Linked DNA regions of Homo sapiens: region 1 is linked to region 2. The links come from fine-mapping of genetic effects on plasma protein levels. A gene starts in region 2. The other region holds a variant in brackets. All regions are shown on one strand. Distances are from middle to middle. Region 1 overlaps NEK4 (NIMA related kinase 4). Region 2 holds the start of ITIH3 (inter-alpha-trypsin inhibitor heavy chain 3).

What was found. PIP is the posterior inclusion probability: the model's chance that the variant is causal. Protein levels are from antibody-based Olink assays in UK Biobank. Linkage for the fine-mapping came from a reference panel and not from the study's own genotypes, which makes the PIPs less certain.
Region 1: its variant is fine-mapped to the plasma level of the ITIH3 protein (UK Biobank, PIP 0.99).

The regions. Positions count from the first base shown.
Region 1 is chr3:52,754,722-52,769,665 of GRCh38, forward strand. NEK4 (NIMA related kinase 4) reads right to left here. Exons shown (of 16, transcript NM_003157.6): 2 at 13,617-13,883; 3 at 11,457-11,654; 4 at 11,166-11,273; 5 at 8,749-8,903; 6 at 6,074-6,215. Among named protein-coding and RNA genes, the nearest start is that of NEK4, 8.7 kb to the right of the region's middle. The variant T/C (reference allele first, on the strand shown) is at 8,324.
Region 2 is chr3:52,783,717-52,798,660 of GRCh38, forward strand. ITIH3 (inter-alpha-trypsin inhibitor heavy chain 3) reads left to right here and starts at 11,080. Exons shown (of 22, transcript NM_002217.4): 1 at 11,080-11,180; 2 at 11,887-11,907; 3 at 12,765-12,931; 4 at 13,023-13,127; 5 at 13,389-13,551; 6 at 14,101-14,214. The coding sequence starts at 11,088. ITIH1 (inter-alpha-trypsin inhibitor heavy chain 1) reads left to right here. Exons shown (of 22, transcript NM_002215.4): 11 at 580-761; 12 at 1,328-1,513; 13 at 2,579-2,718; 14 at 3,229-3,383; 15 at 3,472-3,486; 16 at 3,876-3,896; 17 at 4,270-4,350; 18 at 4,516-4,629; 19 at 5,937-6,138; 20 at 7,033-7,205; 21 at 7,801-7,912; 22 at 8,066-8,346. The coding sequence ends at 8,195. RefSeq lists an enhancer at 10,678-11,567.

The sequences.
Region 1 (14,944 bases), 29 kb before region 2:
CTTTCCTGCTGGACTCTGGACTAGTTCAAGCTGACCAATGGCAATGGACAGCTTGAAAAACAAAACTGTGGGCCGGGCACCGTGGCTCATGCCTGTAATCCTAGAACTTTGGGAGGCCAAGATGGGCGGATCACGAGGTCAGGAGATCCAGAACATCCTGGCTAACATGGTGAAACCCCGTCTCTACTAAAAATGCAAAAAAATTAGCCGGGCGCGGTGGCAGGCGCCTGTAGTCCCAGCTACTCGGGAGGCTGAGGCAGGAGAATGGCGTGAACCCGGGAGGCAGAGCTTGCAGTGAGCCAAGGTCGCACCACTGGACTCCAGCCTGGGCGACAGAGCAAGACTCCGTCTCAAAAAAAAAAAAAAGAAAAAAGAAAAACAAAACTTCTTAACAATGAAAAAAAAAAAAAGAAAGAAAGAAGCCAGAAACAGAAAGACAAATATTGTATGATTCCACTTACATAAAATATCTAGAACAGGCAAATCGGCAAATCCATAGACAAAAAGTAGATGAGAGCTTACCAGGGCCTGACGATACGGGGAATAGAAAATTATTGCTCAATGGGTACCAAGTTTCTGTTTGAAATGATGAAAAGGTTTTGGAAGATAGTGGTGATGGCTGCATGATACTGTGAATCTAATTAAGGACAATGAATTATATGCTTCATATGTACTATTAGACCACATTAACAGAATGAAGGAAAAAAAACACATGATCATCAACACCCTTATGTGATGATTTTCAGGGCTGTGAAAAAAAAACACCTTTTCATGATTAAAAAAAAATTCAACAAACTACGAATAGAAAAAAAAATTCATAACATAATAAAAGTCATATATGAAACACCCACAGTAAACATCACATTTAATGGTGAAAGACTGAAAGCTTTTCCTCTAAGATCAGGAACAAGGCAAGAATGCCTGTTTTCACCTCTTCTAGTCAATATAGTACTAGAAGTTCTAGCCAGAGCAATTAGGCAAGGAAAAAAAAAATAAAAGGCATCAAAATTAGAAAAGAAGAAGTAAAATTATCTCCTTTTGCAGATATGATCTTGTGTCTAGGAAACCCTAAAGATTCCACATACAGAAACTGTTGGAACTAATAAACGAACTGAGCAAGGTAGCAAGAGGCAAAGTCAACATACAAAAATCAGTTGCATTTCTATACACTAACAATAAACAATCTGAGAAGCAAATTACAAGAACAATTCAATTTACAATAGTATCAAAAATAATAAAATAATTAGGAATTAACCAAAAGGCGAAAGAAGGACTTACATAGTGAAATCTACAAAATGGTGCTGAAAGAAATTTAAAGAAGACATAAATAAATGGAAACACATCCCATGTTCATGGATTGAAAGACTTAACATTGTTCTTTCTTTTTTTCTCTTTTTACATTTGGGCATCTCCTTGAGAAAAGCTTAATATTGTCAATATATTAATATTACCCAGAGCAATCTACAGATTCAATCTAATCCCTATCAAAATCCCAATGACATTCTTTGGAAAAATAGAAAAATCCATCCTAAAATTCAGTGGAATCTCAAGGGATCCCAAATAGCCAAAACAATCTTGAAAAAGAAGAATAGAGATGGAGGACTCATGCCTCATGATTTTAAAACATACCACAAAACCACATTATCAAAACAGTGTAGTATTAGTATAAAAACAGACATTAGACATAGAAACCAATGGAACAGAATGGGGAACCCAGAAATAAACTTTCACATATGTGGTCGAATGATTTTTGACAAAGATGCCAAGATCATTTAATGAGGAAAGGACAGTTTTTTCAACAAATAGTGCTGAAAAAGCTAGATATCCATATACAGAATAATGAAGTCAGACCTTTACCTAACACCATATATAAAAATTAACTCAAAATGAACAAAAAACCTAAATGTAAGACCTAAAACTATAAAACTCTCAGAAGAAGACATAAGGCAAAGGCTTCACAACATTGGATTTGCCAACGATTTTCTGGATAGGACACCAAAGGCACAGGCAACACAAGAAAAAGACACACTGGATTTCACAAAAATTAAAAATTTTGTGCATCAAAAGATACTATCAACAGAGTAAAAAGGTAACCCACAAAATGAGAGAAAATATTTGCAAATCATATATGTGATAAGGAATTGACATCCTGAATATATGGAGAACTCCTAAAATCCAACAGCAAAAAATGAACGACCCAACTCAAAAATGGGCAAAGGATTTGAATAGACGCTCCTCCCAAAAAGATAGCAAACGGCCAATAAGCACACAAAAAATGCTCAATATAACTAATCACTAAGGAAATGCAAATCAAAACTACAATGAGATACCACCTCATGCCCATTAGGATGGCTATTACTAAAAAATCCCAGAAAATAACAAGTACTGGTGAGAATGTAGAGAAATTGGAACCTTTGTGTACTGCTGATAGGAATGTAAAATGATACAGAAGTTGTGGAAAACAGTACCACAGGTCCTCAAAAAGTTAGAATTACCATGTAGTCAGCAGTTCCACTTCTGGTTATATACCCAACAAAAGAGAAATCAGGGTCTTAGCTGGGAGCAGAGGCTCACGCCTGTAATTCTAGCACTTTGGGAGGCCAAGGCGGGTGGATTACCTGAGGTCAGGAGTTTGAGACCAGCCTGGCCAACATGGTGAAATCCCATCTCTACTAAAAATACAAAAATTAGCTGGGCATGATGGCACATGCCTGTAATCCCAGCTACTTGGGAGGCTGAGGCAGGAGAATCGCTTGAACCTGGGAGGTGGAGGTTACAGTGAGCCACGATTGTGCCACTGCGCTCCAACCTGGGTAACAGTGAGACTCCGTCTCAAAAAAAAAAAAAAAAAGAAAAAAGAAATCAGGGTCTCAAAGAGATAAGTGTACATTCATGTTCATAGCAGCGTTATTCACACTAGCAAAAAAGGTGGAAACAACACAAATGTACATCTGCAGATGAACCAGATAAACAAAACGTGGGATATACATGCAACAGAATACTATTCAGCATTAAAAAGGAAGGTAATTCTGACATATGTCACAACATGGATGAACCTTGAGGATATTATGTGAAACGAAATAAGGCAGTCATGAAAGACAAATAATGCAAGATCTCCTTATCTGAGGTACTTACACTAGTCAAAACCATGGAGACAGAAAGTAGAATGGTGGGCCAGGCACAGTGGCTCACACCTGTAATCTCAGCATTTTGGGAGGCCAAGGTGGGTGGATTGCCTGAGGTCAGGAGTTCAAGACCAGTCTGGCCAACGTGGTGAAACCCTGTCTCTACTAAAAATACAAAAAAAATTAGCCAGATGTTGTGGCGTGTACCTGTAATCCCAGCTATTCAGGGGGCTGAGGCAGGGGAATTGCTTGAACCAGGGAGGTGGAGGTTGCAGTGAGCCGAGATCATGCCACTGCACTCCAGCCTGGGTGACACAGCAAGACACCATCTCAAAAAAAAAAAAAAAAAAAAAAAAAGAAAGAAAGTAGAATGGTAGAACAGTGGTTGCCAGGGACTGGGGTAGTAGGGAATGGGGAGATACTGTTTAATGGTAACAGAGTTCAGTTTTACAATATGAGAGTTATGAAGATGAGGGGTGATGGCTGCATAACATTATAGATGTATTTAACACCACTAAATTGTACACTTACAAATGGTTAAAATAGTAAATTTTACATTATGTGTACTTTATCATAATGAAAAAATTAAAACTAAAAATTCGATCGACAACCTAAATATAAGAGCTAAAACTATAAAACTGTTAGAAGAAACTATGGCATAAACCTTCAAGACGTTGGATTTGGCAAGGGATTCTTAGCTATGACAACAAAATAAAAAAATAGATAAACTGGACTTCATCAAAATTAGAAGCTTTTGTGAAAAGGACATTATCAAGAAAGTGAAAAAACAAAAGAAATTTTTAAAAACAAAAAAAAAAATTTTAACTAAAAAAGGAAAGAAAAGACAACCTATACAATGGAGAAAATACTTGCAAGTTGTCTATCTGACAAGGGACTAGTATCTGGAACACAGATCGAGAACTCCTACAACTCAACAACAAAAAGACAAAAACACAATTTAAAACTGGGCAGGGGCTGGGTGATGTGGCTCATACCTGTAATATCAGCACTTTGGGAGGAAAACGCAGAAGAACTGTTCAAGACCAGCCTGAGCAACATAGTGAGACCCACCTCTACAAAAATAATCATAATAATTAGCCAGGTATGGTGGCGTGCACCTGTAGACACAGCTAATCGGAAGGCTGAGGTAGGAGGATCCCTTGAGTCAAGGAGTTCAGAGGCTGTAGTGAGCTATGATGATGCCACTATACTCCAGCCTACGTAACAGAGCAAGATCCTCTCTTAAAAAAAGAAAAAAGAAAAAAAAAAAAAAAGCCTGGGCACAGTGGCTCATGCCTGTAATTCCAGCACTTTGTTTGGGAAGCCAAGGTGGGAGGACCTCCTGAGCCCAGGAGTTTGAGACCAGCCTGGGCAACATAGTAAGACATTGTCTCTACAAATAAAAAAATTAGCCAGGCATGGTGGCATGCTGTGGTCCCAGCTACTCAGGAGGCTGAGGTGGGAGGATCACTTGATCCAGAGAGGTGGAGGCTAGATTGAGCCGTGATCGCAGCACTGCACTCCAGCCTAGGCAACAGAGCAAGACCCTGTATCAAAAAAAAAAAAGCAAAAGCTTTAGCAGATATTTCTCCAAAGAAGACATACAAATGGCCAACAAGCATGTGAAAAGATGCTGTATGTCATTAATCGTTAGGGAAATACAAATCAAAAATACAATAGGATACCACTTTACACCCACTAGGATGGCTAGAATCAAAAAATCAGAAAATAATTAGTGCCGGCAAAGATGTGGAGAAACTGGAACTCTTGTGCACTGCTGATGGGAATGTCAAATGGTGCAGCCACTGTAGAAAACAGTGCAACAGTTCCTCAAAAAGTCAAACCAAAAAAAAAGTCAAACCAAAAATTACCATTTGACTCAGCAATTCCACTGCTAGGTATGTACCCAAAAGAACGGAAAACAGGTACTCAACTACTTGCACACTTATGTTCATAGCAATAGCCAAAAGGTGAAAAAAACCCAGATGTCTACTAATGGATGAATGGATAAACAGTGGTATATCCACATAATGGTAGCCAGACCTAAAAAGAAATGAAGTATTCATACATGCTACATGGATGAACCTTGAAAATATGCTATGTGGAAGACACCAGAAACAAAAGGATATATTTAATGATTCTATTTACATGAAATATCCAGGACAGGTAACTTCATAGAGACAGGAAACACACTGGTGGTTGCCAGAGGCTGGGTGAAGGACAAAATGGGAGTGACTGCTTAATGAGGAAGAGATTTCCTTTGGGGTGATGAAAATGTTTTGGAACTACATAGAAGTGACGGTTGCACTACACTGTGAATGTACTGGCCACATTTAATTGATCACTTTATTTATTTATTTTATTTTATTTATTTTTATTTTTATTTTTGAGACAGTGTCTCATTCTGTCACCCAGGCTGGAGTGCAGTAGTGCAGTCTTGGCTCACTGCAACCTCCACCTCCCAGGTTCAAGCGATTCTCCTCCCTCAGCCTCCTGAGTAGCTATGACTACAGGTACATGCCACCACAGCCAGCTAATTTTTGTATTTTTAGTAGAGATGAGGGTTCACCATGTTGGCCAGGCTGGTCTTGAACTCCTGACCTCAGGTGATCTGCCAGCCTCGGCCTCCCAGAGTGCTGGGATTGCAGGCATGAGCCACCGCGCTCAGCCTTAACTGTTTACTTTAAAATGGTTAATTTTGTTATATAAATTTCACCTAAAAAATTCTTAAAGTTATTACAGCACTGACTTTGTGAACAATTTGACAGCCCAATTTGGATAAAGCTAAATCAATCACCTTAACCAGTATTCTTTCTTTACAGTAAGGAATTAATTGTACAACAGAATCTCTAGTAAAGCATAATCATTTCACACAAAATAATTTGCTTAGATGGCCCATTTTTCTAAGTGCAGTTTCTAAAACACATACCCTTTAAAAAGAAACGTACCATTATATATGTCTGGGAGCCCTCAGAAGAGAGTGGTTGGGGGTGGATTACTTCATGATTTGATTCTGCCTCTCCAGAAACCACTGTAGCAAAAGGCTTGGATTGAGAGTCACCATTTTTAATGTTATTTTTGGAGGTTTTTCTTTATAAAGAAGAAAAGAAAGAGTTATTATCAATATACTGAAGATTAAGGGTTTTTAGGTATATGTGGGAGTGTGTGTATACAATGAATTCCCTTACAGAACTGCACCATTTATAGAGAATAGTTTTCTAAAAATCTAAGGGGCATCCTACAAAACACCTCACCAGTAGTCTTTGAAACAATCAAGGTCATAAAAAATAAACAAAGTGAGAAACAATCACAGACCCCTGATTAGATGTACTATATCCTGGATTGGATCCTGGAACAGAAAAGAGACATTAGAGAAAAAAACTGGTGAAAGCCAAAGAAAGTCTGGAATTTAGTCAATAGTAATATTTTTCTTTCTTTTTTTAAAAAATTGAGACAGAGTTTCACTCTGTCATCCAGGCTAGAGTGTAGTGGCGTGATCTCAGCTCACTGCAACCTCCGCTGCCCAGGTTCAAGTGATTCTTGTGCCTCAGCCTCCCGAGTAGCTGGGACTACAGGTGCACGCCACCACGCCCGGCTAATTTTTTTGTATTTTTTTTTTAGTAGAGACGGGGTTTTGCCATGTTGGCCAGGCTGGTCTTAAACTCCTGACCTCAGGTGATCTGCCAGCCTCGGCCTCCCAAAGTGCTGGGATTACAGGCGTGAGCCACCATGCATGGCCAAGTCAATAGTAATATTTCGATGTTGGTTTCTTAGTTTTGACAAATGCATTAGGGTATGTAATCTGGTAATCACAGAAGAAACTAGATGAGGGGTATACAGGAACTCTCCACTCTATCTTTCCAACTTTTCTGTTTATACAAAATTATTCCAAAATAAAAATTCTATGGGAGATTGCCTCACATACGGGAGTATCAGGTTAATTTTCATTTTCAAATTTTACATGTCTGTAATAATACCACAACTGCTTGGCTAACTTTGAGAGTAAAACTGATTGGTACACTTAGTCCTGCTTATAGAATAAATGCATACAGGAATAACATCCCCAACTATTTTAGTATGTCATTTCTAAAACTGGGCTAAACCTCTGGAGAATTCAAGAGGAGCATGGAGATCAGTACACTGGAAGGCCAAAGGTCTGCTTGGTGGGAAATTATGTACACAAAAAGATGGTTCTTCTTTATTCCCTGAGGCATCTCTAGCACTGCCTCCTCTCTTTCCAAATTTAACATGCCACAAGGCAAGAGGAGAAGCCAAACAGATTGTAATAGTTTTGTCCAGCCCTAAGTCTTAGATCCTGGAACACCTGTTTAGTAAAGGTAGGATCTGCAAGCCAAAGCAAGGAATTCTCTTGGGAAGTTAATGTGAATGAAGAGGGAACTTTATGCAAGCTCTCAGAAATGTGAGCACTACTTTTTAAATATTACTATCTTACACAGTAAGATGTATAGGTTTCTCAGATAATCTCTAATTATATGATTTCTAAAACATATGCCCTCTTTTTTTTTATTATTATTTGGCTGCTCCTTGAGAACAGGACTAACTCATAGGCAGTGAGCCCAGAGTAGTGCATATGTCCTTTAAAAAAAAATTTACACTATATGTCTTAGAACCCTCTGAGGAATGTGACAGTGGTTCTCCAAATTTCTGATTTTAGCAATTAAGCAAATTTCAACATGTATTTGAAGACTGGGAGAATATGCCACGCCAAAATATGCTACTTTGGCATAAAGATTATTTTGGGCTAAGGTTCTTTAAAAAGTAAGTGCAAGCTTTGGGAGGCCGAGGTGGGCGGACCACGAGGTCGGGAGTTCAAGACCAGCCTGGCCAACATGGGGAAACCCTGTCTCTACTAAAACTACAAAAATTAGCCGGGCACGGTGGCGGGTGCCTGTAATCCCAGCTACTGGGGAGGCTGAGGCAGGAGAATTGCTTGAACCCGGGAGGCGGAGGTTGCAGTGAGCTGAGATCATGCCACTGCACTCCAGCCTGGGTGACACAGCAAGACTCCATCTCAAAAAAAAACAAACAAAAAAAAGTAAGTGCAAGAAGGGCACTCTGATCTTCCCTTTTTCTTCCAGAAAGCAGAAGATAAAACTCCCATATGAAATACGTCCTCCCTGTACCAGAAGGAAAGTAACATTCTTATTATCAAGAATGGAAAGCTGAAACTGAGAGAA[T/C]TCTATAAACAGACCTTATTAAAATAATTCTTATCTTCCTTTAGCCTCTCCACCTAGTTTACTTTTCCACAATTGCCTCTCTTTGTTCAATCAAGCAAAAAGCATTTAGGTTTTGCCACTTCTTTGTATTTTTAGTAGAAGTTAGGTCTTCATTTCCTTATGAGGGCTCCTGTGTCACATAAAACTTATTCAGGTATTAAAGAAATCTACATGCTTTTCTCCTGTTAAATTATAAGTTTAATTCTCAAGCTCAGCCAAGAAACCCTAAGAGGGTAGAATTTTGCCTCCTCTACATATGTAATCATGCCATTTTATTTCTTGTTTTTAAGAAAACTCACCATTAATTCTTGCATATGAATATTACAGAAGCCACCCTCTTTCACCCCATCTATTTAGCCCAGCTATTTGCAAGGGAAGTATCTTACATCTTTGTGGCCTCCAAAAAGAAGGAGATTTGCCGCTTTATATAAGGCTGCCTCAGGATGCTCCTCACAGACGGCCTTTCTTCAGGCCTTTTGCTCAGCATTGTTCTTATCAGTTCTGCCAGCTCTGGGCTGTAATCTCTTGGCATTGGTGGCAGCTACAAATAAAAATAATATTGTAATTATGACTAATGGTCTTGTGAAACAAAGTAAAAGCTGGTAGAGGTTTCCCAATATTTATTTATAGTCATATGTCCACATAAGCAGAAAACAATCAGTATATTAGTCTACAGGAAGTGTACTGGTATCCCAGTTGTAAGATAACAAGTTGTAAAATTATAAAAGTATATCCTCCAACCCAGCAGTCCCATCTGATGACACTCTCATTCAGAAATAAGAGTATGAGTTTCCTAAAGACTTATGTATCGGGATGTTCAATGCAGTACTGTTCTTGCAGTAGTAAACAATTGGAAACATAAATGTCCCTTAGGGGATTTGTGGAATAAATTATCATGCATTCTTCTTATAAAAACTAGGGCCAGTCGCAGTGGCTTACGCCTGTAATCCCAGCACTTTGGGAGGCCGAGGCAGGTGGATTGCCTGAGGTCAGGAGTTTGAGACCAGTCTGGCCAACATGGTGAAACCCCGTCTCTACTAAAAATACAAAAAAATTAGCTGGGCGTGGTGGCATGCACCTGTAATCCCAGTTACTCAGGAGGCTGAGGCAGGGGAATTGCTTGAACCAGAGAGGTGGAGGTTGCGGTGAGCCGAGATCACGCCACAGCACTCCAGCCTGGCAACAGAGCGAGACTCTGTCTCAAAAAAAAAAAAAAAGAAAGAAAAGAAACGAAACTAGGCAGCAGGTTAAAAAATACAAGACTTGGGCCGGGTGCAGTGGCTCACACCTGTAATCTCAGCACCTTGGGAGGCCGAGGCGGGTGGATCATGAGGTCAGGAGATGGAGACCATCCTGGCTAACACAGTGAAACCCCATCTCTACTAAAAATACAAAAAAGTGGACGGGCGTGGTGGCGGGCACCTGTAGTCCCAGCTACTTGGGAGGCCGAGGCAGGAGAATGGCGTGAACCCGAGAGGCAGAGGTTGCAGTGAGCTGAGATTGCACCACTGCACTCCAGTCTGGGCAACAGAGTGAGACTCTGTCTCAAAAAAAAAAAAACTTGCAGGTACCGACTTGGAAGGATGTGTTCCTCATATATTAAGTCAAAAAAACAAGTTATGTACCATGTGAACAGCCTGATTTCAGTTTAAGAATCTGTGGGTGTGCGCGTGCGCATGCACACACACACACATGCACACACACACACACACACACACACACAGAGTTATGTCTGTATAAAGACAGGAAAAAACCAGAAAGGCCATGTACCAATTTGCTAGCAATGGTCATCTTCCAGGGAATGGGAATAGAAAGAGAAGAGAATTTCACTCCCTTCTTGTTTGATTCTTAAGTAGTGGCATTATGGGAAAATTTTACTTTTGTGTGTGTTTTTCAATATGCTTCAAATTGAAAAATTAAATAAGTTGTGGGATAGTATTAAAATCAATAGATGATTTATGGCCTTTAAAACTTAACAGTACATTGGCCAGGTGCAGTGGCTCACACCTGTAATCCCAGCATTTTGGGAGGCTGAGGCGGGCGGATCACCTGAGGTAAGGAGTTCGAGACCATCCTGGCCAACATGGTGAAACCCCGTCTGTACTAAAAATACAAAAATTAGCTGGGCCTGGCAGCATGTGCCTGTAATCCCAGCTACTTGGTAAGCTAAGGCACAAGAATCACTTGAACCTAGGAGGTAGAGGTTGCTGTGAGCTGAGATCATGCCATTGCACTCCAGCCTGGGAGACAAGAGCAAAACTCCATCTCAAAAAAAAAAAAACAAAAAAAAAAACCTTAATGATACATGGATGCCTGAATCTATAAAGGGCAACTAGCCTCATGGAACATACAAAGCCAGTCACTCTGGAGTCTATATCAGACACAATGCTTTCTGTGATTCTTAACTAGTTACTGATTGTTGTGATGATTATCAAAGGAACGACAAGTTCAAACAGAGTAAACTCATTTTAAATGTAGCTCATTGAATCATAGGCTGCTTAGAAGAAGAGACAAATAGCCTCTCAGGGCATCGGCACATCCTATGACTATAGGCATAGGTTTTCAAAAAGCCAATTCTTTTGAGCCATTAAGCTGGCTTACAGATTAATATTAAGAAATGATCCATCAATCCCTTTTCCTCTAGTCTGACCTTCCCCACAGAAGGGACCCACCATTGTTAACTATCAACCCAATCTCAATAATTACTCATTGACTCATCAAAATCATCAATGATTTTGCTAGTAGCTATTTATAAAGCTGCACTATAGAAATACTGGTCAATTAGTTCTAGATTATTCTTTACCTTTCCTTCAATAATCCGATAAACTAAAGAATTCATATCTTTTGCATTGAAAGCATGCTTCAAGGTGGCCATTTCATAGACACAGCATCCTAGAGCCCAAACATCAGACTAGAAAATAAAAACAGTAAACGGTTAAATGTCAGAATAGCTTATTTACATTTTTTTCCCTTTAAAAAAAGAAAACATTTTCCTTAAACCAATTCATAGATAATTCTCTGACTTAATTAACTTCTGAAATTACAAGCACTCTCCCAGAGACAAGGTAAGCCAGCATACAGAGCCCAATCCTACCTTATAGTTGTAGGGTTTGTTTGAGAACAATTCAGGGCTCATGTAGTAGGGTGTGCCAATGAGGGTGCTAGCCATGTCACAGTGGTTCTCTAACACTCGGGCAATTCCTAGGTCCCCTACTTTGATGATGTTTGTTCTTGTTAGGAAGACATTTTGAGTTTTCAGATCTCGATGAAGGATGTGTTTTTCATGTAAATACTGAGGAAAGAAACAAGATTTTATTACATATAAATAGACTTAATTATGTATTTATTCCTGGCTTATTATATACCATCAGCAATGGCATGAGTTAGAGTCTTTGACCGTAAAGAGTAACCAACCATACAATTCCTTATTCAACAAGCAAATACCTACCAAACATTATTGCTTTATAATCTCTAAATAAAAGGTCTAATTTACAATTTTTGAAATGAGAAAATTAAGTTCCATGTGTTGACTTACCCAGTACCCATCAAAACTGTTCCCTGGTAGCTTGACAATTATACCATTTTGGCATTACATGAATCCAGTTTAAAAATATGTTTACAAGCCGGGCGCAGTGGCTCACGCCTGTAATCCCAGCACTTTGGGAGGCCGAGGCGGGTGGATCATGAGGTCAGGAGATCGAGACCATCCTGGCTAACAAGGTGAAACCCCGTCTCTACTAAAAATACAAAAAATTAGCCGGGCGCAGTGGCGGGCGCCTGTAGTCCCAGCTACTCGGGACGCTGAGGCAGGAGAATGGCGTGAACCCGGGAAGCGGAGCTTGCAGTGAGCCAAGATTGCGCCACTGCAGTCCGTAGTCCGGCCTGGGCGACAGAGCGAGACTCCGTCTCAAAAAAAAAAAAAATATGTTTACAGGCCAGGCGCAGTGTTCAGCAGTTTGGGAGGCCGAGGTGAGCGGATCACTTGAGGCCAGGAGTTCAAGACCAGCCTGGGCAACATGGCAAAACCCCATCTCTACTAAAAAAATACAAAAATTAGCTGGGCATGGTGACGCACGCCTATAATCCCAGCTACTTGGGAGGCTGAGGCACAAGAATCACTTGAACCCAGGAGGTGGAGGTTGGAATGAGCCACGATTGTGCCACTGCACTCGAATCTGGGCGACAGTGACACTCTGTCTTAAAAAAAAAACAATGCTTACAAACTCCACTGATGGTAGGACAACTTATACAAAGTCAGACGCACAGTCCTCTCAGACCCATGAAATCCTCAGCTTAATAATATTTTCAAGTACAGCAAGAGCATTTTTATTTAGAGAAAGTATCTCAGCCGGGCGTGGTGGCTCACGCCTATAATCCCAGCACTTTGGGAGGCCGAGGCAGGTGGATCACCTGAGGTCAAGAGTTCGAGACCAGCCTGGCCAACATGGTAAAACCCCATCTCTACTAAAAATACAAAAAAAAAAATTAGCCAGGTATGGTGGCAGGCGCCTGTAATCCCAGCTACTTGGGAGGCTGAGGCAGGAGAATCGCTTGAACCTGGGAGGTGGAGGTTGCAGTGAGCCGAGATCGTGCCATTGCACTCCAGCCTAGATAACAAAAACAAAACTCCGTCTCAAAAGAAAAAAAAAAAAAGAGAGAAAGTATCTCAGAATTTAAACATGGTCAATTAATTCTGGACAAGTCTACCCAGTTCCAAAATAGTATTTCATAAACGTCTCGCTTTTGAGTTATATGCATATTAAAACACAAACTTGTAGGAACACTTATTCCATCTTAAGGAATGATGTGCTGCCCAATTCTAAAAAATAAAAAAAAGAAAACTTGTTTTGCATTCCCATCTACTGTACCCCAGCAGACTGACAGATGAAATCACTGGGCATATCAATTAGCCTAGCCACCTTTCAGCATGACACGACTGACCAATGGATAACAAACATAGTCACTCTATGCTCTTGGTTGCCTCAGGGTCCTTAAAATTGACTTTGCTATAAATGGTAATTGAGTGGGCTTCCCCTGCAATCAGACATGAAATCTATGTCTATTTTAATATAGGTATCACTTACTTAGAAAAGTTCCAATGCTACAGAAAGAGTGACTGGGTCAACTTCACAAATGAATTTTCCAAAAAATACATTTCTATATGTAAGTATCTGAAGAAAAATTTTCCTAAAATACACCTGCCATCTTCTTGCCATCTGGGAACAAGCTAGGATGCTATTAGTCTACACAGTACCTGCAAAGCCATGGCGATCTGTACAAACCACTCTACCACCTGATTCTCAGGCAGAAGCTGCCCTTTCTGCTCCTTGAGCTTTCGGTACAAATCACCTCCTTCACAGAAGCCCATGACAATGTAGAGCAGACCATCTCCTCCTTCCCATGACTCCTTGTAGGTGACAATGTTGGGATGCTTCAACTGAGACAAGAGCTGGGCTTCCTGTTCAGCAGCTCGCCGCTCTCGGCTAGAGGCATTTCGGAGGTTCAGTTTTTTGATGACATACTAAAAACAAACCATGTATTTTTACAATGTGCAAATAAACGTAAGATTTGTGGCCTCAGAGTTATCTAAGGGCTCTCAAGAATACCCTCAAAACCAACCTTGTGGAGCCTGTCAGATAACCTATTCATTTTGTTTTTCACCAAGCACAAAATCGGGGAAAATATTTGCTATTATTGATACTTCTTATAAGTTAGATTTATAGCAGTGTAGGGCCACAAAAATTACCTTTCCCATCTGCATTTCACAATTTCATTAATGACTAAAAAAAGTGAGTTCAAGATAACATACCATTGGATCAATTATAAAACCTGTGTTAGCAATTCCTTAATATCTGGCCATACACAGTGGCTCACACCTGTAATCCCAGCACTTTGGGAGGGTGAGGCGGGTGGATCACCTGAGGTCAGGAGTTCAAGACCAGCCTGGTCAACATGGTGAAACCTGTCTCTACTAAAAATACAAAAATTAGCCCGGCGTGGTGGTGTGTACCCATAGTCCCAGCAACTCGGGAGGCTGACACAGGAGAATTGCTTGAACCTGGGAGGCAGTAGTTGCAGCAGTGAGCCAACATCGCACCACTGCACTCCAGCCTGGGAGGCAGAGCAAGACTCTGTCTCAAAAAAAATAAAAAATAAAAAAAGAAATTCCTTAATATCTAAGCTCTCCCAAAAAGGTGAATAAAATATAGCTTGACTATACATTTGCAGACAGAATAGTCTGTGGATTACGTTAGATACTCAAAGGGATCCATGGCCCCATAAGTTTAATAGTCACTGATCTTCAGCATACAAAATTATTCACACTTAAAAGAAATCAATAGCCTCTAATACCTAATACATTGCCCTCAATCATTTCAAAGACCATACAATTCATTTCTTCAACACATAGATAAATGTGTTTTGTGAAGTGTAAACTAAAGCTCAAATAACTAGCTATTGCTAGTTCCCTATCATCAGCCCCAAAATCCAATGATTCCCCCAATGCCTACTGAATAAATTTCTTATGCATGAGCTTGTGTTCCACGCAAAGCAACTAGCACCAGAGACAAGGAAGAACAGGCA
Region 2 (14,944 bases):
CCCGGGACCTACTGGGGGAAGCAGATCCAGGAGTAGATACTGAGGGCCCTGAAAGAACAGGGTGCTTGAGGCTGTGGAACCATAGACAAAGGACACCTGACCCAGGGGGATGTCCGGGAAGGCCTCCTGGAGGAGGTGACTCCTGAGCTCAGTCTAGAAAGAGGGGAGAGTGGCAGGAAGGGATCCCAGGCAGAAGAGGCAGCTTAAGTCATAAAAAGGGTGTGTGCACTGGCAGGGCCTGCCCGGGAACTGTGGGCATGTGCAGAATGGGGTAAAACAAGCGTGGGAAGGTCAGCAGGGTCTCGCAGTCCATGGCAAAGGAGCCATGGCAGGATTTCGAGCAGAATCAGACCTGCTGGTGATGGACCCACCTAGATGGGCGGGGTCTGTGAGGAGCTGTTGATAGCTGCTGCAGTCTCCCAGGAGAGCCAGGAGGACGCGATGCCTCAGGATGCCCAGGAGCCTGGAGATGCTCTGAGATGGAAGGCTTGAGCCCCAGGGAGTGTTCCCCAGAGCCCCCTCGTGCCCCACATGCCTGTGGGCCAGCATCCCGTCACTACCCAGGTGTGTGGCTTGCAGGGGTGACGGACCGTTCCCAAATCCTCAAGAACGTCCGCAACGCCATCCGGGGCAGGTTCCCGCTCTACAACCTGGGTTTCGGCCACAATGTGGACTTTAACTTTCTGGAGGTCATGTCCATGGAGAACAACGGACGGGCCCAGAGAATCTACGAGGACCATGATGCCACCCAGCAGCTGCAGGTCTCCCCTCACAACCCCCTGTACCTCCAATGGCATGCCATAGGGAGCCCTGCCTTGGTGGCCGTTTGCCCATCAGCCTAGAGGAGCAGATAAAGCTCTGGCATAGAGTTCAAATCAGCTGCATGGGCCAGGCATGGTGGCTCAAGCCTGTAATCCCAGCACTTTGGGAGGCCAAGGTGGGTGGATCGGGAGTTCGAGACCAGCCTGGCCAACATGGTGAAACCCCGTCTCTACTGAAGATACAAAAATTAGCCAGGTGTGGTGGTGGATGCCTGTAATCTCAGCTACCTGGGAGGCTGAGGCAGGAGAATCACTTGAGCCCAGGAGGTGGAGGTTGCAATGAGCTGAGATTGTGCCACTGCACTCCAGCCTGGGCAACACAGTGAGACTCTGTCTCAGAAAAAAAAAAAAAAATCAGCAGCATGACCTCGAGCCAGCTACTTGACCTCTCGGACCCTCAAATTCCTTCTCTAACTTGGGAATTCCCAACACTCCACTTTGTGGGCAGGCTTCCCATTAGGAGCCCAGGGTGCTCAGCTCTAAGGCTGCAACCTCTATCCCTGCAGGGTTTCTACAGCCAGGTAGCCAAACCCCTGCTGGTGGATGTGGATTTGCAGTACCCCCAGGATGCTGTCTTGGCCCTGACCCAGAACCACCATAAACAGTACTACGAAGGCTCAGAGATTGTGGTGGCCGGGCGCATTGCTGACAACAAACAGAGCAGCTTCAAGGCTGATGTGCAGGCCCATGGGGTAAATGGTGGGCCATGGAGGGTGGAGAGGCCAGGCAGCACCCTAGAGGCTCCAAACCCACACTGTTCCCCATTCCTGCCATCCCCCAGAGGCCTCTCTTTCCCCAGAGTAGTACCCTCATCCCCACCATGCCACATACACCCCAGGCCTGAACATCCCTCCACACAGGCATCCTGGGGGCTGGATTGGCTGGAATGGGGCCAATATGGCCTTTATCAGTTGCAGTCCCTCGGCCCCCAGTGACCAATTGTTATTTTTCGCATCATTCATCCCAAGGTGCAAGAGAGCAAGAGACCAACCTCTCCCTTCTCATTTGATAACCATTTCCTGAACACCTACTGTGTGCCAGGCTTTGTGCCATGGTGCAGTGCATGCATGTATGTGCACCTGTGTGTGGTGGGGACAGGCATGTGAGACCTGGATCCTGCCCTCCAGGACACAGACAACGCCCTAAGTGTGGTCGAAGGTTCAGAACTCAGGCTTTGAGTAAGGAGAGTTGAGCTGGACCTTGGCTCCATCCTGACCAGCTGGGCATCCTTGGGCAAGGGGTCCAGTTCCCTAGGCCTCAGTTTCCTTTTCTGTACCATACTGCATCAGAGCATTGTGTGGAGTAAATGGAATAATCCATATAATACCCTTAGGCAGCAGCTGGTGCATAGGATGCCCTTGGGAAGTGGTGCCCCGGTTAATGTAGCTGGATGGAGGAGGCACATTTGTGTGCCGTGGCAAGTTGAATGGTGCAGCCCACCTAGAATTTGGTGGGCATTTGGAGTGGGTCATAGTGGAAACAGCCGGGTGCTTATTGGCCTCCCCTAGAGAAACTCCACAAGGCAGGGCCTGGTTCTCCCATTCCATGGGATCCCTAGGGTCCAGGCCAAGCCTGGCTTGCAGAGGGTGCTTGGCAAGAATCAACGAATAGGATGAGGCGAACAGGCTCAGGGAAGCAGGTGATGCTGAGGACGAAGCTGCAGATACCAGACGAAATGGGCCCCTCAGAGCCCCTAGCACCAGCCAGGGGCCGTGCTTATCATGGTGCACCACCCCTCTCTGTACCTCAACTCTCAGGAGGGACAAGAATTCAGTATAACCTGCCTAGTGGATGAGGAGGAGATGAAGAAACTGCTCCGAGAGCGTGGCCACATGCTGGAGAACCACGTCGAGCGCCTCTGGGCCTACCTCACCATCCAGGAGCTGCTGGCCAAGCGGTAGGGCACCTGCAGCTGCCCCAGGTGGGCACTGCCCACCCCAGAGTCCCCCCACCCCTTGGAGGTGAGCAGAGGAGGGGTGGTTCTGGGGCAAGTAGGTCAGATTTACTTTCCTCTTCTGCTTTGCTCACTGAGTTAATATCAACCAGTCAGTCAACAGTCCGGGCAGGCCCACCAGGGCACAAGGCAGCCTGCTATTTACCCACACTCAGCACACAGAGGCTCAGCGAGGTTAGACCTCTTGACCCAGATCTCACAGCTGTTAACGTCTCTGCGTATCTCTGAGGCATGCCCCTCAACCCCACCGAATCTCCAAGTGATCTCTGTAAGAGATCATTAAACCTGGAGGCCCCTGAGGATGTAGCCACTGCATAGGACACCATGGGGGCTTAATACTTATGTGTCGAATGAATGAATGAATGAATGAATGAATGAATAAGTGAATGGATAGGTGAAAGGATGAGGGCCGTGCAAGTCGGGGCTTGGAGCCAGCCTCTGTCTTGAATGCAGGATGAAGGTGGACAGGGAGGAGAGGGCCAACCTGTCATCCCAGGCCCTGCAGATGTCGCTGGACTATGGGTTTGTGACCCCACTGACCTCCATGAGCATCAGGGGCATGGCGGACCAGGACGGCCTGAAGCCCACCATCGACAAGCCCTCAGAGGGTATAGGCTGCAGGGGTCTACAGAAGGGAGAGGCCATGGGCCAAAAACCTCTGGGGCTCTAATTATTTTCTCTTTCTCTCCCTTCCAGATTCTCCGCCTTTGGGTGAGTTTTAAATTGCATTAGTTTCAGTTCTGGGCTTCGGTAGCTGGGCAGGTGGCAGGTGCTCCAGCCCCAGGCTCGCAGCTCCCCATCCCCATTCTTCCCTGACTCCACTCCTTCCCGTTCTTCCGTCCCCTGAGCCGCCCTTCTCCACATCACCGCGAACTCCCTGCTGCGCTTTGTGAGCTTTTGTGCAGGCTGAACCCCCAGCAGCCTCCACTGGTCCCCTCTTGGTGTGAGTGTATGTCTGTGAGGAGGCAGGACCCCAGGGGAGGGCTGAGACCCCCAGAGGGACGGCTGGGCCCAGGCCTGTTGTGGACAGAGCTGCATGCCTTTCGTGTGGGGCACCGTGGGTGACACTGTCTTCGATAATATGTCCTTGTCTTCTACAGAGATGCTGGGACCCAGAAGGAGTAAGTGGCAGCCATCCTGGCCATTCACATCTCTACCCCTCCTTGATGATCACCCCGTTGGCTTTCTTCCTCCGTTCTAGCTGTCTTCACTGCTTGTCACTGGGAATCTTTAGAACAGACCTCTGAACAGCCTGGCCTCCCCAGCCTGAGGTCCCTGGGGGAGGAGACAGAGAGGGGGCCAGCTAAACATGCCAGGCCAAGCTTCTGTCCCCGTGTCCCGGGAGCCAATCAAGGGCATGTGATGTTGAGTGGACATCCCTGCTTGGTGGCCTCAGGCCAGCCCCACCAGTGAGGAAAGAGTCATCAGAGGGATCAGCAGCTCCAGGGAAGGCCTGGCTGCCCCGCTTCTAAATGCCACTCCCCCTCCCATCAGCGTTCGTGCTGTCAGCCTTGCAGCCTTCTCCTACTCATTCCAGCTCCAATACCCAGCGGCTGCCAGACCGAGTGACCGGCGGTGAGTCCTTGGAAGGGTCTGAGGGACACCCCTGTTTGGGACCCACCCTATCTGGCTGTCTCTCTCTCTCTGTCTCTCTCTGGGACCTGCCTAGCTGAACCCCAACCCCTGGCCAGCCCCATCTGCCCGATGTCCAATCTAACGAATTCCATGCTGTGCCCCCAGTGGACACAGACCCTCACTTCATCATCCACGTGCCCCAGAAAGAGGACACCCTGTGCTTCAACATCAATGAGGAGCCTGGTGTTATCCTGAGCCTGGTACAGGACCCCAACACAGGTATGGCGGGCATCACACCTCTGCCAGACAGGGCCAGGGCTCCTCTGCCCTCAACATTCAGCCAGGAACAGGACTATGGCCAAGGCCCTCACTGCCCTCTGCCTGGGCACCATCCACCTGGCTGGGCTCTGCCCGCTGCCTTCCCACGCCATCCTCCTGGCTGCACCTACACAGGGCCAGCTTTATCAGCATGTGACTGGGGTAGGCACACAGGGGCTTTTTTTTTTTTTTCTGAGACAGAGTCTTGCTCTGTTGCCCAGGCTGGAGTACAGTGGCGTTATCTCAGCTCACTGCAACCTCTGCCTCCTGGGTTCAAGTGATTCTCCTGCCTCAGCCTCCCAAGTAGCTGGGACTACAGGCGCATGCCACCATGACTGGTTTATTTTTGTATTTTTAGTAGAGATGGGGTTTCACCATGTTGGCCTGGTTGGTCTCAAACTCCTGACCTCAGGTGATCCGTCCACCTCGGCCTCCCAAAGTGCTGGGATTACAGGTGTGAGCCACCGTGCCCAGCCAGTTTAATGCTCTTCCGTTGCCGCCTTGAAACCCTTAACACTTTCTAAACAAGGGGCCCTTCCTTTTTATTTCATACTAGGTCCTGCAAATATGTCACAGTCCTGCCCCACCTTCCCCATGAAGCATGGCTGAGCAGAGCACCTCTCTCCCAGCAGTGCCTTGGTTATGGGGAACAGCTCCCTCTCCTTCTCTCACCCCTGCTCCCTCCTGTCTCCTTCCCTCCCTGTCCAGTTAGTCCATCTGCAAGTGTTTGTTGTGCACCAACGAGGGGCTGGGAATGCAGTGGGAGCCAAGATAGTCCCGCTTTCATAGAGTTTAGGGAAGGGGAAGACAAACAGGTGAACATTCTGAGATGATCATTTCAGAGCATGAGACGTGCTGGGTTGGCAGCGTGAGGGTGGGAAGGGGGCTTTGTGGCTGCCCAGGTCAGCGGAGACCTCTGTGAAGAGGTCCCACAATGCATTTCCAGCACAATGGGAGCCTGTCCCTGTGTGAGGGGCTGGGGCCACAGAGAAGGAGCAGGCTAGGTCCTGTTCTCGGGGAGGCACGACCTCCGTTAGGACCCAGAACTGAGAGCTGAGTATGGGATATTTGGCATGGCAGGAGGGGTGGAGAGGAAGGAGAGGTGGTGCTGTGTGCGGGACCAGACCTGGAGACCCTGAGGCAGGAGACTCTCAAAGACAGAGTGGCACAGGCAGGGCGTAGAGGCCTCTTAGGAAGGAGGCATGATCCTGCTAAGCAAAGGCAGGCAGGCCCCTTCCCAACCCGGATGCCCTCTTGCTCCATTGCAGGCTTCTCAGTGAATGGACAGCTCATTGGCAACAAGGCCAGGAGCCCTGGGCAGCATGACGGCACGTACTTCGGGCGGCTGGGAATCGCAAACCCTGCCACGGACTTTCAGTTGGAAGTGACTCCTCAGAACATTACGCTGAACCCCGGCTTTGGTGGGCCTGTGTTTTCCTGGAGGGACCAAGCTGTGCTGCGGCAGGACGGGTAACCTGCCAGGGCCTGGGCAAGATGCAGGGGGAGGTGTGGCCTGGGCCCAGGACTCTGCTGAGTCTGCAGGGCCCTCGTCCCTGAGCCATGTCTGTGGGTGACACCCATGTGGCCTGTGCAGACATGTCAGACTCCATGGCCCACCCAGCCCTCCATTTCCCTTGGTTACTGGATATGTCCTCTGGGCCCAGCTGCATGGCAACTGTGCTCCCACCGCACCTTAGCTCTGAATGCCACCCCTGTCTCTACCAAACAAAGCCAGCTCATCCTCCCAGGCCCAGCAAAGAGGCCACCTCTTCCCCTCAGCCCTCCTGCTCTCTTCCTCTGCTGAACTCCAGATTTCTCTGGGCTTCTCATTTGGCATGTCTTAGTCTGCATTGTCTCATGACTTTTCCTTCCTTTACTAATTCGTTCATTCATTCATTCATTCATTCAACAAACTGTGCCAAGCACCAGAGCAATGCTGGGCAGCAGAGCTATAGGAAGAGGTGGGGAGAGTCTGCTGTGGAGGTCACAGGTGATGAGTGGGAGTCACAGAACACGGACTCTGATATTAGACAGCCTGAAGTCCAAGTCCTGGCTCCACTGCTTACCAGCTGTGCTACCTTGGGCAAGTTACTTAACCTCTCTGAGCCTGGGACTTCACAGGCTCGGAGTGAGGATTGAATGATGCAGTTTGCACAGAGGGCTTAGCACAGGACCTGGCACATTGCAAGGGCCCCAAGCAACATGTGGGGAGGGGCGTGGAACAGGTAACAGCCGGCCATCTGGGGATGAAGGCCATGGGGTGGGGGCGTGGTCATAAGGGTTGGGTCCCAGATGACAAGGGCAGCTGAATGGAGAGGGATGCAGTGCAGCCGCACCTGCCCTCTCGGCCACCTGGCTCTGCAGGGTGGTGGTGACCATCAACAAGAAGAGGAACCTGGTGGTGTCTGTGGACGACGGTGGCACCTTTGAGGTTGTTTTGCACCGAGTGTGGAAGGGGAGCTCGGTCCACCAGGACTTCCTGGGCTTCTATGTGCTGGACAGTCATCGGATGTCAGCCCGGACGCACGGGCTGCTGGGTACGGCTGGCCAGGCTGGCAGGGCTGTGGGGAAGGGTGTTGAAGCCAGAGGACATGTGGGACCTGGGGCCACCGGTCAGTTCTATAGCTGGGCACCAGGACAGGCCCACCTCCAGTGTGGCCTCCAAGGAGCAGAGCCGTCTGAGGGGCTGTGTTGGTGAGGCTGTGAGCAAACACACAGTGAAACAAACGCTTAAGCGAGCCTGGGAGCAAGTGAGGGGCAGAGGTCTGATCGCAAAAAGAAAGGCCCAGAGGGTTCCCAGGAACCTTGTGAGTAGGGTGGGTCACTGACCACACTGCTCCTGTGTGGCCTTTCTACAGACACTGCTCTCTATGGGCACCTGCCCTCAAACCTCTCTCCCCAGACAGATCCCGTTTTAAAAGACAGGAGGTAGGACCACCTAGAAATGTATCTACTTCTCTATAGCAAGTGAACCAAAGGTAGCTTTTCATGCTGGGACTGTTAGCAGAAACAGTCAAGCCCTGGAAAAAAAGCGGTCCAGCAATGCTCTAACCCCGCAGTGAGCACCTGCTGAGTGCAGGGCAGGAGCAAGTCCCCGAGATGGTAACCGCTGTCTCCAATGTGCCTTTCTAGGGCAATTTTTCCACCCCATCGGTTTTGAAGTGTCTGACATCCACCCAGGCTCTGACCCCACAAAGCCAGATGCCACGATGGTGGTGAGGAACCGCCGGCTCACGGTCACCAGGTGGGTGGGCTGCTTGCCCAGCACGTCTGCCCTCGGCCACTTTGTAGTTCTTCCAGGTCTTCCTCCAGGTGTCACATGGGTGGGGTGAGCTTCCTGGGGAGGTGCTGCCCTACTGGTCCGAAGGGTGACCCCAGCTGACTTGTCTCTGCACAGGGGTTTGCAAAAAGACTACAGCAAGGACCCGTGGCATGGGGCCGAGGTGTCCTGCTGGTTCATTCACAACAATGGGGCTGGACTCATCGATGGTGCCTACACTGATTATATCGTCCCCGACATCTTCTGAGCCCTCTGGCCAGCACGCCTGTCCTCCCCCGGGGCCAAGGCAGAGGAGGAGGACGACATCCTGACCTGCTGCTGAGGCTGTACCTCCTTGACTAAGCTGGTTCCTTGTGTCAAAGCACCTCATGCCTTCCATTAAAGAGAGGCCGTGTCCACCCTGAGCTGGCTGATTTTGGGGAGGGAGGATGGCAGGGAGGCAGCCCAAGATGCTGCCCCTCAGATGGACTAAGGGGTTACAACAGACCCAGGGAGAGGAGAAGCAGGTCAGAGGCTGGGAAGAAAGCTCACACCATTTCCCTGCTGAGGGTTTGTAACGTCTGGCAGCCAGGCTGGTATTTTCCAAAGGCAGAGATGGTCCCTGCCCAGAAGCTGTGATTTCAGGGGGCCAGGAGTGGCACCCTACCATCTCCTCATGTGAATGCCTGGAATTACCCCATCAGGGTCCCCTCCCTTGGCTTGACCTTGGGGCCCAGTCAAAACACAATGTCACAGGTGCAGGGAGGTGAGCCACACGTCAGAGAGCTCTGTGTGTGAATGCGCACAGGCCTCCACCCACTGCTTTCCAGAGGCTTTCTGCTTTTTCTTGCTAGTTTCTGTCCAGTTTCCACTATAAATGAGGCTCACAAGGGACCAGACAGAACAAGGACTGGTTTTGAGGGCCTGGATCAATAACACCAATGCTGAGCTCAAAGGCTGCCCCAGGCCCTATGAACACAGAGCCCCTAGCGGCAGGCTGTGGGGCGGCCAGCCCACCTTCCCAGGTATCCTGGGGTTCTCCAGGAAGAGCTGTGAGCTGCCAGCTGTCGGGGTCACCCTTGGCAAGGCCTGCCCAATGGGGGCCTCATCTCCCTCTCCTGTAGAATGGAAAGGCGGTGAACCCAAAGATCTCTTAGATTCCGTCTAATTATAAAGTCTGCATGACGACTCTGGTTCCTCCAAGTCCCCAGCCATCCCTTGAGGCTGCTTGAGCAGCTACAGAATCCCTATTTCGAGTTGTCCGTCTCCCCAAACTCCAGGCACTTGGGGATGAGGCAGTGGTCCAGATGAGAGAGTACAGGAGAAGCTCTGCAGGCAGCTGCAGGTCCGTGAGGAGGAGCCATTGGGCAACAGTGCCAGCCACCCAGTGCCAGCAGCCACAGGACTGAAAACATCCCAGAAGCCAGGAAATGAGGACACGGCAGCTCTGAGGGGTCTTCTCTCCACACCCAGGCGCCAGCACCTGCTGGGTTTGGCCTCCATCAGGCCCGAGCTTGGTGCCTGCTGCCAGTGAGGTTGGTGTAAGGGTTCAGGAGGCCCGAGGGAAACAGGCACCGCCCAGCCAGACACCAAGCACAGGCAGCATCTGCCACTTGGCCATCATTTCACTGGCTTGGAAACTCCCTCTTTTCAATTTTTTTTTTTTTTTTTGAGACGGGGGTCTCGCCCTGTCATCCGGGCTGGAGCGCAGTGGCACGAACACAGCGCTCACTGCAGCCTCGAACTCCTGGGCCCAGGTGATCCTCCAGCTTCAGTCTCCCAAAAAGCTGGGATTACAGGCAAGAGCCATAGTGCCTGGCTGATTTGGCAACTCTCCATCATTGCTCTGTGGCTGCTGCCTCTTCCAGCCATTAGACCACACCCTCCTCAGGGCTTCCGCTGCCCCGTGGCATCTGCCTTTTGCCTTCTTGGTTCCTCTGCTCCCAACAACTCTCTCTGCACATCTCCCAGTCAGCACCAGAGCTTTCAGCTGAGGCCGCTGAACTCCCCATAAGTTAGTTGTCCTGGACCCAGCCGTCCTTGTCGACTCCATTCAGTAGTGGGCTGCCCAGTGGGAGGGTCACAGGGTCAGCTTGGCTCAGAGAAGCCATGGGTATGGTGGGTGTGCAACAGCTGCCCTGATGGGGCTAGGCTGGCAGGGTCCTGAGGTGGCTCAGGAGGTCCCAGCCCCCACTGAGACCAGGTCCTGCCTCTAAAGCTCCTGTTGTCCTGGAAGCTGGAGCCCAGCCTCACTACGACTTTTAGGGCAATGACTCCCCAAAAGGCTGAGGGCAGCCAAGTCCCTGGCTGGGCCCTGGAAGCACAGAGGGAAACATGACATGGTCCAGCCCCCAGGAGCTCTGGGTGCAGAGGGGGCAGGCAGACCTGAGCACATCCACCTCAACATAAGGTCATGACAAAGCAGGCCCTCAGGGGGCTTGGGGCTTGGAGCAGGGATGTCCCATAGTCCTCTAGGGGATGGCCAGGGAAGGGTCCTGGAGGGGAGGCACTGGGACTGGCAGAGAGATGAAAGATGTGACATGTGCAGAAGGGGAGGGTGTGCTGGTGCAAGAGAGTGAGCTCAGAAAAACAAGCTGGGGTCAGATCACAGAGACAGCTGGGCTTCCGGGATCGTTGTGTGTCCTTTCCCTGGGGCTTTGGGGGCCATAGAAGGGTAGTGAGCGAGGGGCTCTGCTGTGGAGGTCCCAGCCTGAAGGTGACAGTCTAGTTTCACGCCCTGGCTGCCTCAAGAAGGGAGGGGCTGCAATCCAGGAGGCCAGAGAGAGGCTGTCCCAGTGGTAGGGATAAGAGGCAACAATGCTGAGATGCCCTTTGCCCTAAATGCAACTCCACACCCCATCTCCATCATCCACGCCAGGGAGTCCCAGGGTCCATTTGTTGGCCCACAGCTTCTGCTTTCCTGCGGGCCTCTTCCGAGTCCCCCGGTCTCTCAGGAATGAAGCCCCAACGCTGTTGGCAAGACCCACCAGGCCTTCTTCAGACAGACACATCGAGGGACCCGTCATTCCACCCATGCCCAGCTTCCCGGAGGCCCTTCCTGCCTCCACTCCTCCCACCCCCGCTGCAGGTCACTGACCCTGCTTGGAAAACACCAGGCTTGCTCATATAAGGAGCGTGGGCCAGGCCTGAGTATTCAGCGATGGCATTTGCATGGTGGCCCTGTCTCATCTTGGCTCTGCTCTCCAGCTTGGCAGCCTCTGGCTTCCCGAGAAGCCCCTTTCGGCTGCTTGGGGTGAGTCTGCCCCCTCTTTGCCATCTGGGTCTTGGTGTGGAATGGGCAGAAGGCATCATGCTGGGCAAGGCCTCTGAGTGGAGTGAAGAGGAGGCAGAGGGCTGGGCACTGAGCTGCTGGGAGTAGTGTGGACACTGGGAGAACCGGGCTCCAGCTGAGGCCTATGCTAACCTGTTGTCTAACCCTGGGAAGGCTCTTAAAACTCCCTGGGCCTCAGCTTCCCCACCTGTCAAAAGAGCAATGCACCAGGAACTGCTCACTTCACTGAGGGGCAATGAAGGTTCAAGTCTCAAACGAGTGTGACCTCTACAAAATGCTCAGTTGAGCCCTGCGGGGTGTGGCGGGGGCAGGGGTGCTCTGGAAGGAGGCCTAAAGGGGCCTGGGGGCCAGGGAAAGGCAGAATGGGAGATAGAATGAGGTGGGGCATGTAGGGTGTGAAGAGAGCTCTGGGTTCAGTTCCCCCTGCCCTGCTCTCCTGGTAACCTGGATACCTGCCCCTCTCTGGACCTCAGTTTCCCCATCTATTCAGAGTTTTTCCTACTCTGACATGTGGCTCTGGAGGGTCCTATGTCTGGGGGCCACTCAGGTGTGTGGGGGGCAGGGCACCACTGAACCCCTGGTCTCAGCCCAGAGCCTCCCAGGCCATGCGGCCTTGGTGTTGGCCTTGGCCTGATTCCTGTGTTTGTGTTTGTTTTTGTTTTTTCAGAAACGGAGCCTCCCGGAAGGGGTAAGAACTTTCACCAGGGGGTGGGACCGAGTGGGGCAGGGCAGGATGGAGCTGGTTCCCCAACTGCTGAAGGTGTAGGCTATAACAGCTGACTCCTCACAGCTGGCAAACAGCTTACGGCCCTCTGCCCTGGCAGCCTCCAACAGCGCAGGACTCCTGGGAAAGAGCACCACAGAGTGACGACCCCTCCAACCTCGCAGGATGTAGCCCAAGAGGGCCCCTCACAGGCATCCCTTCCTTCCGCAGACACTTCCTTAGCACTTGCTGGTACCTGGCTCTGTGAAGCGGTCCCTGCCACACCCTCACGAAGCATCTTTATATCCCTAGGGGGAGGGGGCTGGAACACCTCCCTAGAGCCTCTCAAAATTCAACACCCCTATTGGAAAGAGGGTGTTTGGAGACTTCCCTTGGCACAGGAAATCAGTTCCTCTTTGGGAGACAGAATGAGGCAATTACCTAAAGACCCAGGAGGTGGGCTGGGCTGTGTGCTTGAGGGAGTGTGAGGTGTGGAGGATGAGCAGGAAGAGCCAGGGGCAGATGCTCCAGAGCCAGTGTCCCACGCATAGCTGGAGCTCAGGGTGACTGGACGGGAAAGGGCAAGCTCTCACTGGCTGCAGTGGTGTGTAAACGGATCGCAGAATTAAGGAGGCAGGACAAGCATCTGAATAATGGTGGCCACCAGAACATGGAGACTGGAGACGCCACCAAGTCTTCCAGTGTAGAAGACCTGGAGGATGAGGGTTGCGTGCCGGGCAGGGGCCTCAGAGCCTCCAAGGGTTTGCAAGGGAGGTGGCTGGGTTGCAAACCTGCTTCTCCAGTGTCCCAGTCTGGCTGATTCTCCACCCACCTCCCCAAAGGTGGCCAATGGCATCGAGGTCTACAGTACCAAAATCAACTCCAAGGTGACCTCCCGTTTTGCTCACAATGTTGTCACCATGAGAGCCGTCAACCGTGCAGACACGGCCAAGGAGGTTTCCTTTGATGTGGAGCTGCCCAAGACGGCCTTCATCACCAACTTCACCTTGTGGGTACCACCATGGCTGCTGGCTCTGGGCTCGGGAACAGGGGGTCTGGCCCAGTGTGATCTCCCTACCCCCAACTCTCTTTCCCTGCAGGACCATCGACGGTGTTACCTACCCTGGGAATGTCAAGGAGAAGGAAGTTGCCAAGAAGCAGTATGAAAAGGCTGTGTCCCAGGGCAAGACGGCCGGCTTGGTCAAGTAAGTATGGACTCCCAGGCCTTGGGGAGAATGTCTGGGATCCAAGGGCCTTCAGGGCTACAAACAACAACAACAGCTATTATTATTGGTATAGCAAAATGTGCCCATAATTTTGCCATTATCCCACGTTGAGGCTGAGGCAAGTGAGGCTCAGAATGGTTAGGGATCTCCCTCGCCAAAGGGCTGGGCCTGGGGCCGAGGGCCGAGGAAGGGTGGGCTCCTGCAGTCTTTGAGGGAGTCACCATCTCGCACCCTGGTCAGGGCCTCTGGGAGGAAGTTGGAGAAGTTCACAGTCTCGGTCAACGTGGCTGCAGGCAGCAAAGTCACCTTCGAGCTAACCTACGAGGAGCTGCTGAAGAGGCACAAGGGCAAGTACGAGATGTACCTCAAGGTCCAGCCTAAGCAACTGGTCAAACACTTTGAGGTAATCAACCGCCCCTGCAGACCTGGGGGGACGGCAGCGGGGTGCAGGAACCCGCCCATGGGGCAGTCTCAGACAGGGGTCAAAAACAAAAGTTCTGCCTCACGGCATCCCCCATCCTTGGCTGGGAAGGCTGGAGGAATTCAATGGTTCTGGCCAAAAGCATCTGGGGCCAAGGGGAAGAGGCTGGGATGGACTCCACAGATGCAGATTCGGTGCTGGGCCCTCAAGAGCAACACCAGCAAGTGCCTCTGTAAGGCTTCTCACTGGGCACATGGGCATTTTTCCTACCTCAAAGCTGAAAGCCAAAGGAAAAGCATCAGTGGTGGAATTTCGGGCGCATATGGCAGGCGGTGGTAACACCTCCCGATCAGCATACTCTCCTCCAAGCCCCTGTGGTCACTTTCGCAGTGGGAGACACCAGGCTTGGCCCTCAGCACTGTCCTAGAGGGTCCCTGCATCACCACAGACCCATCTCATTCCCATTGGCCTTGTTCTGGGAACTGGCCTCTGAGGTCACTGAGTGACATTTCCTTACTTTGGCCATTTCAGATCGAGGTAGACATCTTCGAGCCTCAGGGAATCAGCATGCTGGATGCTGAGGCCTCTTTCATCACCAACGACCTCCTGGGAAGCGCCCTCACCAAGTCCTTCTCAGGGAAAAAGGTGATGTAGATGCCTCTCAGACCTGGTGGGGCAGGGGACAGGAATACTGACTCCAGCAGAACAAGCCTGCAGCCTAGGGCTTAGCTGCTGCAAGCATGCATGTGTTGGGGTGGGGCTGGGGATCAATCTGCAACTATCACCTTCCTCCTTGCCCACTGGGGTTGGGAGTGAGGATGCTGAGGGCAGGGGCTGCTGACAATGACCTGCCAGAGGAGCCATTTACAAAGCCTGGTCCCGTTCCCCCTTGGGAAATGGACAGGGCAGGGCTTATCTTCCCTGTTTTACAGGTCCCGAGGCTGAAGCCCAAGGGAGTCATTTAGATCTACTGACTCCACAATGAGAGGTGAAAGACTAAAGAGAACTTCATTCTTGGTGCTAGGTGGTTGACTCCAGTCCCCAAGGCTCCCAGCTGTTCCAGGGGCCTTAATGGCAGTGGACAGTGGGTGAATAAATGTTTGTATAAACAACAAACCAATCATCCAGGACTTCCAGGGCGAGGCCCGAGGAGCACACACTCAGAGGACTGCTGGCTTCTGCAGGGCCACATCCTGCCCCGGGACCCTCCTCCTCCCCTTTCTCCTCCTTTCTCCCTCCCCTCCTCTTGGCACCCACACACCAACATTCCAAACCTACAAGAAATTCCTTTTAATGGGAAGCTACCCCTTCCCTAAGTAGCTTCTCAGTGCTGAGCTCCAAGGTAGCCTGGGCTAATGGGTGTGTGAGGCCAAGA